2 separate regions of the Homo sapiens genome follow, and region 1 is linked to region 2. The links come from fine-mapping of genetic effects on gene expression. Tissue or cell type: blood mononuclear cells. Region 2 holds a variant in brackets; the other region holds the start of a gene. All regions are shown on one strand. Distances are from middle to middle.

The links. PIP is the estimated chance that this variant, and not a neighbour inherited with it, causes the effect. A credible set is the group of variants that fine-mapping cannot tell apart.
Region 1: it holds the start of NDST2, and the variant in region 2 is the best candidate, but not a certain one, in a credible set for the expression of NDST2 in blood mononuclear cells (TOPMed, PIP 0.68).

Annotation. Positions count from the first base shown.
Region 1 is chr10:73,808,626-73,816,329 of GRCh38, reverse strand. NDST2 (N-deacetylase and N-sulfotransferase 2) reads left to right here and starts at 4,732. Exons shown (of 15, transcript NM_003635.4): 1 at 4,732-4,856; 2 at 5,427-5,531; 3 at 7,601-7,704. It overlaps CAMK2G (calcium/calmodulin dependent protein kinase II gamma), which reads left to right. Exons shown (of 23, transcript NM_001367534.1): 22 at 1,083-1,327; 23 at 1,825-3,829. The coding sequence ends at 1,315. NDST2-ZSWIM8-AS1 (NDST2-ZSWIM8-AS1 readthrough) reads left to right here and starts at 4,510. Exons shown (of 18, transcript NR_182658.1): 1 at 4,510-4,856; 2 at 5,427-5,531; 3 at 7,601-7,704. RefSeq lists silencers at 1,386-1,639, 4,218-4,927, 5,228-5,297.
Region 2 is chr10:73,773,964-73,781,972 of GRCh38, reverse strand. LOC107984243 (a long non-coding RNA gene) reads left to right here and starts at 20. Exons shown (of 2, transcript XR_001747500.3): 1 at 20-196; 2 at 371-1,344. It overlaps POFUT4 (protein O-fucosyltransferase 4), which reads right to left. Exons shown (of 3, transcript NM_173540.3): 3 at 5,754-6,432. The coding sequence ends at 6,288. RefSeq lists an enhancer at 1-284. The variant A/G (reference allele first, on the strand shown) is at 2,721.

The DNA of each region.
Region 1 (7,704 bases), 35 kb before region 2:
AGAATGTGCAAACCAGGGCACTGTTGGTGATTTGCGAGATCGGAAGTTGTGGCTAGAATCTTCCTGACTATGGAGGAAGGCAGACGTCTTGTATAGGGGGTGGGGTGTACATTCTGGACAGTTCATGGAAAATAAGGGGATAAGAAGCTGAATCATCACCCCCTCCCATCTTTCTCTCTGCTCTATGAGACCCTCCCCTTCCTTATTTTTATCTCTTCCCACTTTATGCTGGGCCTTCCCTATCCTGCCCTGAGTTATAGTTAGTCACTAACTTCTCCGCTGGCTCCCACCCTTATCACATCTCAGCTACATATATAAACTCTCTGTTATCTAAGTAATTCTATTAGCCAGAAGCAATTCCAGAGTTTATATTAGTACTAGGAAGGTGTCATGTAGCCCCTGTCTAACATTTGAATTGAACTAAAATGTGAATCTCAATAAAAGCAACACAGTTTTCACAGCATATGCTGATAATGGCAATCCAACTTCTTTTGCCTTTTCCCCAGAGAATCCTGGGAATATCCTGAGCTTGGTGCTTTGATGATTCTATTTCAGCTTTGGTGCCTTAAAAAAAATTACAAATCAATTTTGAATGGTTTAAGTTCATGATTTTGTTCTGCAGCCCTAGCTAGGGGTGAGCCAAGCCTTATGAAATCTAAACTCAGCCTAACAGAATAGAAAATCTATAGGCTTTAGTTAAGAGTCACATGGTCCTGAGTTCAGGTGTGTGATTTGAGCAAATTATTCCTTGAGCCTATTTCCTCATCTTATAATGAAGAAAATATTATCCACCAAGAAATACAGCTCGGGCATGTAAAACCCCAGCACAATGCCTGATTAAAAGCGCAGCAGGTACTGTCACTGTTACCCATCTTTCTGTTCCTTTTGGATAAAGGAGACTAATGTAATGTGGCATCCTGGCCTCTGGAGGGCGTTCAGGGGTTCGGGGGTGGGGGGGGGCGGTACTTGGAGATTCTGGGAGTGGTTGCTTGGGAGATGGTAAGACTTGGAAGTGCAGGCTGGGAGGAAAATGCAGGTGCCCAGGCCTGATGTCCTCTTACCTACCCCACCCTGCCCTGCAGTCCTGTCCAAGAACAGCAAGCCTATCCATACCACCATCCTAAACCCACACGTCCACGTGATTGGGGAGGACGCAGCGTGCATCGCCTACATCCGCCTCACCCAGTACATCGACGGGCAGGGTCGGCCTCGCACCAGCCAGTCAGAAGAGACCCGGGTCTGGCACCGTCGGGATGGCAAGTGGCTCAATGTCCACTATCACTGCTCAGGGGCCCCTGCCGCACCGCTGCAGTGAGCTCAGCCACAGGTGCACCTGGTTGACGGGGGAGAGGGGCTGGAAGGGCCTGGGATAGGTGGGGTCAGAGGAAGAAGAGAAGGCTGGGAGGTGGTCCTGGGAGAGGAGGTGTGGGCCGTCCCAGAGGACTGGCAAAGCCTGGCAGAATGGTTGCAATAAGTTATGCTTGGAAATCAGACAGACTAGGGTCTGGCTCCGTGACTCCAAATTGGATGACCTCAGACAGGTTACTTCCCCTCCCTAAACTGTTTCCTTAGCTGTCAAAGAAAGGCAGAGAGTGGTGCCTACCTCATTTAATCATTGTGAGGATTAAGTAAGATACTATAAGTAAAGCACTTAGTTAGTGCTTAGCAAATGGGAGGCAGTTTTGTATTTAAGCATTAGCTTCACCCACTTTCCCCACCTTCTCAGGCCGACTTGGCCATGTGTTTAGCGTGCTAAAGTCGCTGGAACTCATCTGTGTGCTCATTGTCCTCTGTTCTGTTACCACATTCTGTCCTGTTTGACAGGGGCTTTAGGAGATTCCAGCCGGAGGTCCAACCTTCGCAGCCAGTGGCTCTGGAGGGCCTGAGTGACAGCGGCAGTCCTGTTTGTTTGAGGTTTAAAACAATTCAATTACAAAAGCGGCAGCAGCCAATGCACGCCCCTGCATGCAGCCCTCCCGCCCGCCCTTCGTGTCTGTCTCTGCTGTACCGAGGTGTTTTTTACATTTAAGAAAAAAAAAAAAGAAAAAAAGATTGTTTAAAAAAAAAAGGAATCCATACCATGATGCGTTTTAAAACCACCGACAGCCCTTGGGTTGGCAAGAAGGCAGGAGTATGTATGAGGTCCATCCTGGCATGAGCAGTGGCTCACCCACCGGCCTTGAAGAGGTGAGCTTGGCCTCTCTGGTCCCCATGGACTTAGGGGGACCAGGCAAGAACTCTGACAGAGCTTTGGGGGCCGTGATGTGATTGCAGCTCCTGAGGTGGCCTGCTTACCCCAGGTCTAGGAATGAACTTCTTTGGAACTTGCATAGGCGCCTAGAATGGGGCTGATGAGAACATCGTGACCATCAGACCTACTTGGGAGAGAACGCAGAGCTCCCAGCCTGCTGTGGAGGCAGCTGAGAAGTGGTGGCCTCAGGACTGAGAGCCCGGACGTTGCTGTACTGTCTTGTTTAGTGTAGAAGGGAAGAGAATTGGTGCTGCAGAAGTGTACCCGCCATGAAGCCGATGAGAAACCTCGTGTTAGTCTGACATGCACTCACTCATCCATTTCTATAGGATGCACAATGCATGTGGGCCCTAATATTGAGGCCTTATCCCTGCAGCTAGGAGGGGGAGGGGTTGTTGCTGCTTTGCTTCGTGTTTTCTTCTAACCTGGCAAGGAGAGAGCCAGGCCCTGGTCAGGGCTCCCGTGCCGCCTTTGGCGGTTCTGTTTCTGTGCTGATCTGGACCATCTTTGTCTTGCCTTTTCACGGTAGTGGTCCCCATGCTGACCCTCATCTGGGCCTGGGCCCTCTGCCAAGTGCCCCTGTGGGATGGGAGGAGTGAGGCAGTGGGAGAAGAGGTGGTGGTCGTTTCTATGCATTCAGGCTGCCTTTGGGGCTGCCTCCCTTCTTATTCTTCCTTGCTGCACGTCCATCTCTTTTCCTGTCTTTGAGATTGACCTGACTGCTCTGGCAAGAAGAAGAGGTGTCCTTACAGAGGCCTCTTTACTGACCAACTGAAGTATAGACTTACTGCTGGACAATCTGCATGGGCATCACCCCTCCCCGCATGTAACCCAAAAGAGGTGTCCAGAGCCAAGGCTTCTACCTTCATTGTCCCTCTCTGTGCTCAAGGAGTTCCATTCCAGGAGGAAGAGATCTATACCCTAAGCAGATAGCAAAGAAGATAATGGAGGAGCAATTGGTCATGGCCTTGGTTTCCCTCAAAACAACGCTGCAGATTTATCTGCACAAACATCTCCACTTTTGGGGGAAAGGTGGGTAGATTCCAGTTCCCTGGACTACCTTCAGGAGGCACGAGAGCTGGGAGAAGAGGCAAAGCTACAGGTTTACTTGGGAGCCAGCTGAGAAGAGAGCAGACTCACAGGTGCTGGTGCTTGGATTTAGCCAGGCTCCTCCGAGCACCTCATGCATGTCCCAGCCCCTGGGCCCTAGCCCTTTCCTGCCCTGCAGTCTGCAGTGCCAGCACGCAAATCCCTTCACCACAGGGTTTCGTTTTGCTGGCTTGAAGACAAATGGTCTTAGAATTCATTGAGACCCATAGCTTCATATGGCTGCTCCAGCCCCACTTCTTAGCATTCTTACTCCTCTTCTGGGGCTAATGTCAGCATCTATAGACAATAGACTATTAAAAAATCACCTTTTAAACAAGAAACGGAAGGCATTTGATGCAGAATTTTTGCATGACAACATAGAAATAATTTAAAAATAGTGTTTGTTCTGAATGTTGGTAGACCCTTCATAGCTTTGTTACAATGAAACCTTGAACTGAAAATATTTAATAAAATAACCTTTAAACAGTCCATTGTGTTACTGCTGTTGGAGGTTTACGGCCAGAGGCGTAGATTTTAGCAGCCTGGCTTACCAGGTTGGAGAGAGTACCTCCTCCTACTCCCTTTGGGTACTTTTGAGAATAAAACTTCCTCATGCCTGTAATCCCAGTACTTTGGGAGGCCGACGCGGGCGAATCACGAGGTCAGGAGTTCGAGACCAGCCTGGCTAATATGGTGAAACCCCGTCTCTACTAAAAAATACAAAAAATTTAGCTGGGCATAGTGGCGGGCGCCTGTAATCCCAGCTGCTCGGAAGGCTGAGGCAGGAGAATCGCTTGAACCTGGGAGGGGGAGGTTGCAGTGAGCCGAGGTCGCGCCACTGCACTCCAGCCCAGGCGACAGAGTGAGACTCCGTCTCAAAAAAAAAAAAAAAAAAAAAAAAAAAAAAAAAAAACTTCTCATAAACAGCCTCCAAACAGCGCTCGGTGCTGCGCAGGCGACGCGGGGCGGGGAGGGAGGGTGAGTGCCCTGGGAGCCGGCTGAGGGCCTCGCCCCGCCCCTGGTCCCGCCTCCGGTTAGGCCGCTCCGCCTCTTACTCCTCCCCTCCCCCGAGTGGGCCGGCCCGGCTCCCCCTCCGCGGGGCTGAGTGGATGAGCCCAGGCCTGAGCCCGCCCCTGCTCCGAAGTCGTGGTCCCCGACGCTCGGCCGGCAGTGCCATCGCGCGGAGAGGAGGGGGTGCGCTTCCGCGGGCGGGGCGCGGAGCCCGCCGTCTCGGAGGCCGCGGCTCGGCCCGGCACTGCGGAGGGCCGCTTGATTTCCCGGAACCCAGGTCGCGCGGCTGCTAGGGCCGGAGCCGGTGGATCCGAGCGGGTGCCACCAGCGGCGGCGCGCCGCCTCCCCCGGTGGGAGCGGTGGTTGGGCCAGGCTGCGGCAGAGCGTTCGCTCGGAGATGGCGGAGCAGCCGCGACGCGGCCCGTGGCCCCGAAAGCAGGGAAGCCGGGCAGCCCCGGGACGCGGCGGAGCCCGGGGACAGCGGGGACGCCGCCCAGTCCTCCGGGTGAGCCGCCCCTGAGGAGACCCCCCCGCCCACGGTCGCGCTCAGGCCCCCCCAACAGACTCCCTTGGATGTTGCCACCATCACCACCCGCAGGGTCGTCCCGGGCGGCCCAGCGTGCGCCGCGCCCCGGGTCCTTTCCGCCGGCCTCCCTCAGAACCGCCTCGCTCCCCTCCGGACCGGGCGGGCTCCCTTCTTCCCGCAGGGCTCTCCCAGCCCAGAGGCTGTCTCGATGTCACCCCGGAGTCGCCGCCGCGCGCCTGTGGCCCCTTCCCCTTTGGTGTCCCACATCCGGTGCGCTCTTCGCATCCACCTGTGCCCCCGTCTCCTCTCGGCGGGGCCCCTCCACCCGCCAGCCCCGGGCCCCCTCGGCGCCCGCAGCCTCCGCGCCGCTGCTCCGGCCGTCCCGGCCTCCCCAAGCCCGGGCCCGGCCCCGGCCCCCGTCTGGCTTCGCCGTCCTCAGAGATCTCCCGCACACACCCACCCCGCCCAGCCCTGCTGGCCCTCAGTGTTCACTGGCCCGGCCTGCGGCGCTCCCGGCGCCCCTTCCCTAAACCTTGCTGCTTCTTCCAGGTATGAAGCTAAAATGCAGCGGCTAAGAACGCGGCTCTGGAGCTTGACAGGCCTGACGTCGAATCCCAGCCCTCCCACCAACTGAGCTGTGTGATCCTGGGCAAGGTTCTAAGCTTCTCTGAGTTACTCATATGTGAAATGGGGATAATGGAGCATGTACCTTTTCCCTACCTCTTAGGGCTGGTGTGAAGATTAAATATATGTGAAGCTCTTAGAAGAATGGCTGGCAAGTTGTAATTTCTCAAATACGGGATGATACACCCTGAGTATCAACTTCCCGTCAGTGACCTCCTCACTACAATGTTTTCTCTAAAGTTGCATCACATTCTTAGCATTCACCCCTTCCCGTCACCATTTTGATCCTCTCCCCCAGCTGTCTTCTCGTGTCGTTTTACCTAGGCCAAAGCTGAACTGTTTTATTTTTATTTTTATTTTTATTTTTTTTTGAGCTGGAGTCTAGCTCTGTCACCCAGGCTGGAGTACAGTGGCACAATCTCAGCTCACTGCAATTTCCGCCTCCCACGTTCAAGTGATTCTCCTGCCTCAGCCTCCTGAGTAGCTGGGACTACAGGCGCCCACCACCATGCCCATCTAATTTTTGTATTTTTAGTAGAGACGGGGCTTCACCATGTTGGCCAGGCTGGTCTCGAACTCCTGACCTCAAGTGATCACCCGCTTCGGCCTTTCACAGTGCTGGAATTACAGGCGTGAGGCACCACGCCTGTCCTGAACTGTTTTTAAATCATCTCTGTCAATTCTGAAGGACCTCAGCTCTGCCTTATCACCCCTGAGATGTGTGTTTGGGGGTGGGTGGTAGAGAGGGATTGCCAGCCTTACAAGGAGGCTGAGTGGGGATAGTGACAATAAAGCTTACAGAAGCAGTCGATTTAAGAAAAAGAACAGACTCAGGAGGCTGAGGCCGGAGGATTGTCTGTCTGACCCCAGGAGTTCAAGACCAGCCTGGGCAACGTAACAAGACCCCCATCTCTAAAAAAAATTAAAAATTAGTAGGGTGTGGTGGTGCAAAGCTGTAGTCCCAGCTACATGGGAGGCTGAGGTGGGAGGATCACTTGAGCCCAGGAGTTTGAAGCTGCAGTAGGCTATGATCACACTAGCACACTGTATCCTGGGTGACAGAGCAAGACTCCATCTAAAAATAATAAAAGAGATCCCCAAAATTAGACCTCCTTAAAACTGTTTTCTGATCACACTGTCCTTTTTCCTTCTGTCATTGGTTGGATGTGACTTAAGCTCCTGTTGCTCTCTGTCATCCAGTCCTTACTCAAGTTGTTCTGTTTGTGTAACTGGACTCAATACCTCATGTCTCTCCAGACTAGCTCAGGGACTCTTCTGAGCTGTTTAGGAATAGGGTTGTAGAACTACTTAGGCTAAGTTAGGAAGGAGAAGTAGAGTGGACTCAGCTGTATGGCTTTTCTCAGCACCCAGTGTGTGGCCTGCTCAGGGGTTACATTTTTATCTCCTGACTGGCAAAGTTGAGGTGAAGGTCAGGGGCAGGTAATGTTTCACAAGCAACGGGTAAGGGAGTCCCTAATTTCTGGGTTTGGAAACTGGTAGAATGATTACCTATCATGAGGATTGCTCTTTCCTTTTGAACTCCCCCACCATAGTGTCCACCTGACTGCAAGTTCGTTAAAGCTGTTGGCTGTGATATTGGGTTTGATTGATGAGAAGATTAACAGACTCATGAGTTCCTTATCTGATATTTTGTTGGAGCATGGGACTTCTGAAGACTTCCGGGGCTTTCCGTCCCTTCCTCACAGAAAGATCAGAGCTGTTGCTGGCTGCCAGCTGCTCGGTCATGGGCTAGGAACTCCTTTCAGAGCAGGCCTGTTTTTAGCCTTCTAGGATATTTAGCCTCTTGTTGATGGGAGATTTGTTCCTATCATTTGCATATACTGCTCCATCTCTGAGCTTTGCTTAGAGAGGAGAATTTGGACATTCATTTGGGTATTCTAAGAAAGGGAAAGGGAACAAGCTGTGAAGCTAAGGTATAGGACTCAGCTTGTAGATTCTCCTAGAGGAAACTTTTTTTTTTTTTTTTTTGAGAACAGATTATCCAGTAAGCAGGAGGTAAGAGAGATGGGATGGGGAGGAGAATGGATTAATGACAATTTCAGAGGGAGGAGTAACCCACTGATTTCTCTGTCTTACAGGTAGAGGGGAAGAGATTGAACTTTGCTGACCTTTGATGTGAGGCGCTCAGCCAGGGCCAAGGGGAGAGCCTGGCAAGATTTGCAGCCTGAAGCCATGGGCCAGG
Region 2 (8,009 bases):
TGCTGGCAGCCACCTCTTTCTTTTACTTGGCCGGGGCTGCGGCGACGCTGGGTTCGAACAGCGGCGGGTTCATACTTGTCAGCAGATTAGGAGGAGACTCTGGGTTCGTACGCCGACTGAGGCTTCTCCTTGATGGGCTCCGGGCCCCGAAGTCTGGGGGCAGTACGGGGCCGGGGACATGCAGGAAAGGGCCCTGGTAAGTGGACACTGTTCTGGTGGTAGCCGGCTTGGTCTAGGGGCGATTGGCATAGGGCGGGGTTGGGGGGGGGGGTGGCGAATCAAAATTTGAGACTTTAAGATGTTGGGTTGGGAAAGATTCGTGTTTTACTTTAATAAACCTGAAAGAACTGTCGTTTTTCACTGCCTATAGGACCACTACAAAGCCGCAAAGAAAAATTAGACTTGTTTCATTTTATAACAACAACAACTGCTACTACTGCTACTAGTTAGATACCGTTTGCTCATTTATAACAATCTCAGTTGGTAGGATGAAGCTTAAACACTTGGCATTCATCGTCTTTTTCAGTCCTCTCGCCAGTCTTACAGACTTGGACCTTCAGTTGTGATGCTTAATCAGAATTTTTTTTGAGATAGGGTCTCTCTTGGTTGCCCAGACTGGAGTGCAAGTGGCACGTTCATAGCTCACTGCAGCTTTAAACTCCTGAACTCAAACGATCCTCCCGCCTCTGCCTCCTGAGTAGCTGAGAACACAGGTGCAAGACACCACGCCCAGCTAATTATTTTTTGTAGAGACGGGGTTTTGTCATGTTGCCCGGGCTGGTCTCGAACTCCTGGGTTCAAGCGATCTTCCTGCCTCGCCCTCCCAAAGTGCTTTACATGACTGAGCCTCCGCGCCCAGCCAGACTTGTTTCTCAAGTGACTTCTTCTGGCCATTTTCACAACTCATTCCAAAGATGTGCAGCATATTCTCAAAGCATTTCCAAATAAGCTCCAAGAAATGTTTTTGGTAATGGAAGCAGAAAACAAGCCTGTAGCTCATGACTACTTTGGAGGAAGAACATTTGGATTTGTAAATTTAGTGTGTTAAAAAAATCACTTATCACAGATGTTTGGAATCTTCCCACTGATTTCTGCATGGCTGCTTATTTTTCTTCCCTTAAGTCTCAGTTCATGTCACAGAGGGCTTCCCTGACCTCTCACACCTCACCACCATCAACCTGTTTTCTCCATAGCACCTATCACAGTCTGAATTGTCTTATTATGGCCTTACCTATCCCTAACACCCATTTAAAAATGTAAGCATGAAAGAAGGAACGTTGTCTATCTTGTTCATTGCTGAATCCCCAGTGCCTAGAATAGTACCAATAAATACTTGTTAAATGAGCAAATGTTTTATTTATTTATTTATTTTTGGATTTGGGGTCTTGTTCTGTCACCCAGGTTGGAGTGCAGTGGAATATTAGCTCACTGCAGCCTTGGCCTCACTCCAGTGATCCTCCTGCCTCAGCTGCTGGAGTAGCTGCGACCACAGGCTCACACCACCAAACCCGGCTGGCTTGGTTTTATTTTTTGTAGAGATGGGGTCTCAGTATGTTGCGCAGACTACTCTTGAACTCCTGGGCTCACGTGAGCTTCCCTCCTTGGCCTCCCAAAGTGCAGGGATTACAGGCATGAGCCACCACACCCAACCTGAAACTTTTTTACAAATCTCCAACTTTATTACACCCACCCCCAAAAAAATAATGAAGCAGAAGACATTGTTTAACAAGAAGCAGTTTATTACACAAAACGAAACCTGAGATAATAGAAAATAACACTTGCAGTAATAAAGGAAGCAGCCTTGCACTCCACCTCCACACTCCAGAGTATAATTAAAAGACTCCTATCAGACATTTCTATCACCAATAATGCCAACCTCTGTATACAGCAGCAGGCTGGGCCCCAAATCAGAAGATTCATGTTGCTTGCTTTCTCTATAGGGAAAGTGAAGCTTTCGGTAAGTATCATGTGGCTATTCCTGGTTCTACTTTCCCTTGTGGAAATGTAATACCTGGTTTACACTGCTCTTTTGTGAGTACGTATATGGTGATAGGAATAAAGGAGAAAGTCTGGAAAGCACCAAGCACAAAGCAGGCCTGAGGCTCCAGCAACAGTCATTCAGAAACAACTGCCCACTTTATACGTAAAAGTATGAAAGGAATGCCAATGTGAGCCCATGTCATTAGGAGAGGTAAGGATAATCTACACCTTGCTTAACCATCACTTAACCTTTTTATTGCACATAATGAAATTTAAGCCCTAACCTAGGTCTGTACTTGTGTAATAATTATGCACTCTAAATTAGCATCTGCATTTAGATAGATTGCAAGCTTAGAAATCAGTCCTGCATTTGACCTCTTTTGTCAGTGCCTACTATATCAAATTTTAACAGATTTTTTTTTTTTTTTTGAAATGGAGTTTTGCTCTTGTTGTCCAGGCTGGAGTGCAATGGCGTGATCTTGGTTCACCACCACCTCCGCCTCCTGGGTTCAAGCGATTCTTCTGCCTCAGCCTCCTGAGTAGCTGGGATTATAGTCATGCGCCACCACGCCCAGCTAATTTTGTATTTTTAGTAGAGATGAGGTTTCTCCATGTTGGTCAGGCTGGTCTTGAACTCCCGACTTCAGGTGGTCTGCCTGCCTTGGCCTCCCAGAGTGCTGGGATTACAGGCGTGAGCCAGCTCACCCAGCCCAACAGATTTTTTTTTTTTTTTTAGACAG[A/G]GGTCTCACTGTGTTGCCCAGTTGGCACTCATAGGCGCACTCACAGCATACTACAGCCTCAAACTCTTGGGCTCAAGCGATCTTCCTGCCTTAGCCTTCTGAGTAGCTGGGACTGCAGACCCATGCCATCACATCTGGCTTAGATATATTTTTGAAGGTTTTTTTTTTTTTTTTTTTTAGTTTCTGGAGTGCAGTGGCGATCCTCCCACTTCAGCCTCCCAAGTAGCTGGATCTACAAGGCACACACACCATGCCCAGCTAATTTTTTCTGTTTTTTGTAGAGATGGGGTTTTACCATGTTACCCAAGCTGGTCTTGAATCCCTGGGCTCAAGCGATCCTCCTACCTTGGCCTCCCAAAGTGCTGGGATCACAGGCATGAGCCACTGCACCCAGCCTGAAGGTCTGTCTTCCCTCTTGTTCTTTTCTGCAAAAGGTCAAACAGGGTAAGCAAACTTTCTGTAATTTATGAAGATCATCTTTTATTAAAGGACTAAATGAAAAAAGAACAACTTTGGCAATAAAATTCAGCCTAATTACAGCTTTTCTTGGCCGCATCCTTAGATGTCAGTATATTAAGTGTAGACCCTAGTTGTTGAAGCATCTAACATATATCTATCTATATAGGTAGATATATAGATATAGGTATAGATAATATTAAACTGTGGAACTTCTCTAGTGATAACTCACTAATACATTACAACTAGAGTAGCCCTAAGGTCCAAGGTATTCTTTCCTGTCCCACTGCCCCAGAAAGAGCTAATGGTCTCCCTGCTCATTAGACTGTATGTTCAAACCACAGCAACAGAAGGGTTTGGCTGCATCCCCAAATCTGACTAAGCTTTTTTTTTTTTTTTTTTTTTGGGATGGAGTTTCGCTCGTCACCCAGGCTGGAGTGCAATGGTGCGATCTCAGCTCACTGCAACCTCTGCCTCCCAGGTTCAAGCAATTCTCCTGCCTCAGCCTCCCAAGTAGCTGGGATTACAGGTGTGAGCCACCGTGCCCAGCTCTGACTAAGCTTTTATTTAGCCAGCCACTTGTGGCTTAAACCTCCTCATCCCCTTGAGTGGGCTCCATCAAAAAGTAGTCTCAGGCTGGGCACGGGGCTCACTCCTGTAATCCCAGCACTTTGGGAGGCCGAGGCGGGTGGGTCACTTGAGGTCAGGAGTCCGAGACCAGCCTGGCCAACATGGCAAAACCCTGTTTCTACTAAAACAAATACAAAAAAATTAGCCAGGCATGGTAGTGCGTGCCTGTAATCCCACCACTCTGGAGGCTGAGACACGAGAATTGCTTGAACCTGGGAGGCAGAGGCTGCAGTGAGCCAAAATCACGCCACTGCACTCTAGCCTTGGTGATGGAGTGAGACTCTGCCTCAAAAAAAAAAAAAAGGTGGGGGCACCTGGGCACGGTGGCTCACGCCTGTAATCCCAGGACTTTGGGAGGCCAAGGCAAGTGAATCACCTGAGCTCAGGAGTTCGACACCAGACTGGCCAACATGGTGAAACCCCATCTCTACTAAAAATACAAAAATTAGCTAGATGTGGTGACGGGCGCCTGTAATCCCCACTACTAGGGAGGCTGAGGCAGGAGAATCACTTGAACTGGGAATGCAGAGATTCTAGTAAGCTGAGATCGCGCCACTGCACTCCAGCCTGGGCAACAAGAGCGAAACTCCATCTCAAAAAAAAAAAAAAAGTCATAGGGAAGCGTATTAGTAATACAGTGAATGAAGCTGGACTATTCATTGCACTTAAAGTGAAAAGTGCTACAGATTATGAAATAATTACTAAAACATACAGCCACACTGTTTCCATAACTGCAGAAGATGGGACTTTGTAGCATATAAAAACAATAAAATAGAGGGAACACTTCATTAGGCAAACAAAAGAATTAGGACCTATAAAAATTTGCACTTTTTTTCCTGGATTTTTTTTTTTTTTTGTCAACCTACTCACCAAAAAATTTGCACTTTGACTCATATTGGCCTATTTTAACATTTCAAAATCATTTAAAGAAAAATATGACTTTTTCTGTCATAATTCCCAGTCTTAGTCTCTATCTTTGATCAAAAAGAGGATAGGGCAATACATTAAATTGACAAGGCATATAACAGCCACTGAATCTTTCTGTTCATGAGAAGAAATCCCAGATACACCATAAATGAGATGCAAACCAGCAGTAAGAATGATGGCAAGGTTTCTGTATTTCCATCAGAAATTGTGGAAAAGGGCCTAAAACCAGGAAAGACAAGGCCATTAAAAAAATGTATTTGAGGCCGGGTGCGGTGGCTGACACCTGTAATCCCAGCACTTTGGGAGGCCAAGGCGGGCGGATCACGAAGTCAAGAAATCGAGACTATCCTTGCCAACATGGCGAAACCCTGTCTCTACTAGAAATACAAAAAATTAGCTGGGCGTGGTGGTGCATGCCTGTAGTCCCAGCTACTCAGGAGGCTGAGGCAGGAGAATCGCTTGAACCAGGGAGGTGGAGGTTGCAGTGACCCGAGATCATGCCACTGCACTCCAGCTGGTGACAAAGCAAGACTCCATCTTAATATATATATATAATTTGAGACGGTGTCTCGCTCTGTCACCCAGGCTGGAGTGCAGTGATCATGATCATAGCTCATTGCAGCCTTAAATTCCTGGACTCAAGTGATCCTCCTGCCTCAACCTCCCAAGTATCTAGGGCTACAGGTGTGCACCACCATGCCCTGCTAATTCTTTTATTTTTTAGAGACAAGGTCTTGCTAGGATGGTCTCAAACTCCTGGCTTCAAGCAGTCGCCTCTCCTCGGCCTCCCAAAGTGTTGGGATTACAGGCATAAGCCACTACGCCTGGCCAGAAAAAGCCAAAAAAAAAAAAAAAATTAGGGCTGGGTGAGGTGGCTGATGCCTGTAAACCCAGCACTCTGGGAGGTCAAGGCGGATGGATTGCTTGATCCAGGAGTTGGAGACCAACCTGGGCAATGTGGCAAAACCTCATCTCTACAAAAAATATTTTAAAAAAATAAATAAATAAGTAAAATAGAAGTTTGACATGAAAGTATATAATATAAAAAAATCCAACTCCGGAAAACCAGAATACAACTCACCAAATGTTTTGCTTCTCCACCAACGTAACAATTTATAAAGCAAGAGATGAGAAAAAGAGATTATTGGGAAATGTACTGAATAATGAGGAGTCTGGGGAATAGAACAAAAGTTGTAAGTCGTAACCTGACCCATCTTACTTCACTGGTAATCAAGTACAGTCGAAAGGATGAAATAAAGAAGTGAGTAGTTTAAAAACTCTGTTGGACCAGCACCTTGAATCAAATGGATGTTTTAGGGTTCTGTTTCCCACTGAACCAAGAATTGTATCCCTCCATCTCTCCTTGAGGAGAGGCCCTATGTTAGACCTTGGCTACTCATCATTAAGATAAAATCTTAATAGATAAAACTGGAATTCCTTGAATCCATGAAAAGACAGTGTTCATTAAGGGTTTGTGCAGTGGATGCTCCTTATGTCCCATGGTAGAATAAGATCTCCTTAGCTCCGCCAAGTTAAAGGCTCTTGCAAGGGCACTTAGAGATGTTGCCTCTTCATGAAGATTTCATGTAGGTAATCCCAAAATTTCGTCTGCTCTGTTTCATTGTTGTGGATCATGGCAGTGAGAGCTTCCCCCTGGTCCAGACCTTGCCAATAATCTTGCAGCCACATCTCTTTCCAACTGAAATATCAAAATGGGGGTTGGATTATGGAACTGCAGCATAGTTATGAGTCCTGCCTTTTTCCGAGTGGGGCCAAAGAAATCTTAAGCAGATACAGTGGTCTCTAACTTGGACAAGACTGCTGTGAAAGGAAGACAAAGTGAAGTAAATCCAATATAAGCCCAAGCGACAGGCAGTAAGTCACAAACACAAAGACATCACACAGACTACCCAATCAATTACGATTCCTGACTTGCCTGCTTCTGGCTCCCAAATGTGGAGGGGGTTCAGAGGCAGGCAAAGCAGAGGCCAGACTGGAAGTGGCAGTCTCCATAAGGAAAGCAAGGGGGCAGGGGTCTTTAGATGATTATCTTTTAAGTTTCACCTTTATGCCAATAATCAAAATGAAGGTGCATCAAAATGAAGTAGCATCCAGTATCTAGAAAAGACATAACCTGAATATTTATTTTCTTAATGTTTCATATTTTTTCATACTTTTCCTCTAGTAAATCATATTATGTTCAGATACAAACAATTTGTAATTAGATACAAATTACTTGGTGAAGGATTCCAACCATCAGGACAAAACTGCCAGCAGCATCTGTTAATAAATGGCCTTCTGCTGCCATCCACTGTCCAAGTCGGTTTCTATAGGCCATTCTAGCAGCCTTACTTCAGCTTAATAATCTTATCACCTCTCCCCCAATAGGTGTGGCTTGCTACAAGTGGTTTCAACATTTTCCCACCCCACACCACACGCTGGCCTTGTTTCCCAGTACCACCACCTTTTGCCACCTACTACAGTAGCCTATTCGCTTCCCTTCTGATGCGCATTGTGCATTGTTTTGTGTGTGTGTGTGTGTGTGACAGGGTCTTACTCCAACCCAGGCTGGAATGCAGTGGCACGATCCTAGCTCACTACAGCATTGAACTCCTAGGTTCAAGCAATCCACCTGCCACAGCCTCCCAAGTAGCCAGGACTACAGGTATGTGCCACCACCCCAGGCTTTTAGTTTTTAAATTGTACAGAGAGGCTCTTATTATATTGTCCAGGCTGGTCAATATATTATATTATATATTATATTGTCTCTGGCCTCAAGTGTTCCTCCCCCCTTGACCTCCCAAAGTGCTGGGATTACAGGTGTGAGCCACCGTGCCCGGCCATGCCTAGTTTTTCTAGTTACACAGGCAGTGTGTCCCCACCTGCACCAACTACATGGGGCTCATCCTCAGCACAGCCGCTTAAAAAAAAAAATTATGGCTGGTTAACAGGTGTAACCCCTGACTACTGCAGAAAAGCCTCTCTAAAAGTGCTCTTCTCTACTGCCCAACCCCATTTCCACTCTATAAAAGGTGCTCAAATAGCTGAGTTGATTTTTAGTGCAGTGCAAACTCCTGAACCTGGTATTAATGATATTTATAGCCTTGTCCCTATTTATTTGCCCCATTTTCTCTCTCCCCTGTCTGCACAGGCCCTGTACTCTGGTTCAATCTTTTTGAACCACTACTGGAAACATTGTTCACATAAGCTGATTTTCATACGTTGCCTTGAATTATATTTTACATCTATTCAGCTTTTTCAGCTTGTCTTATCCCC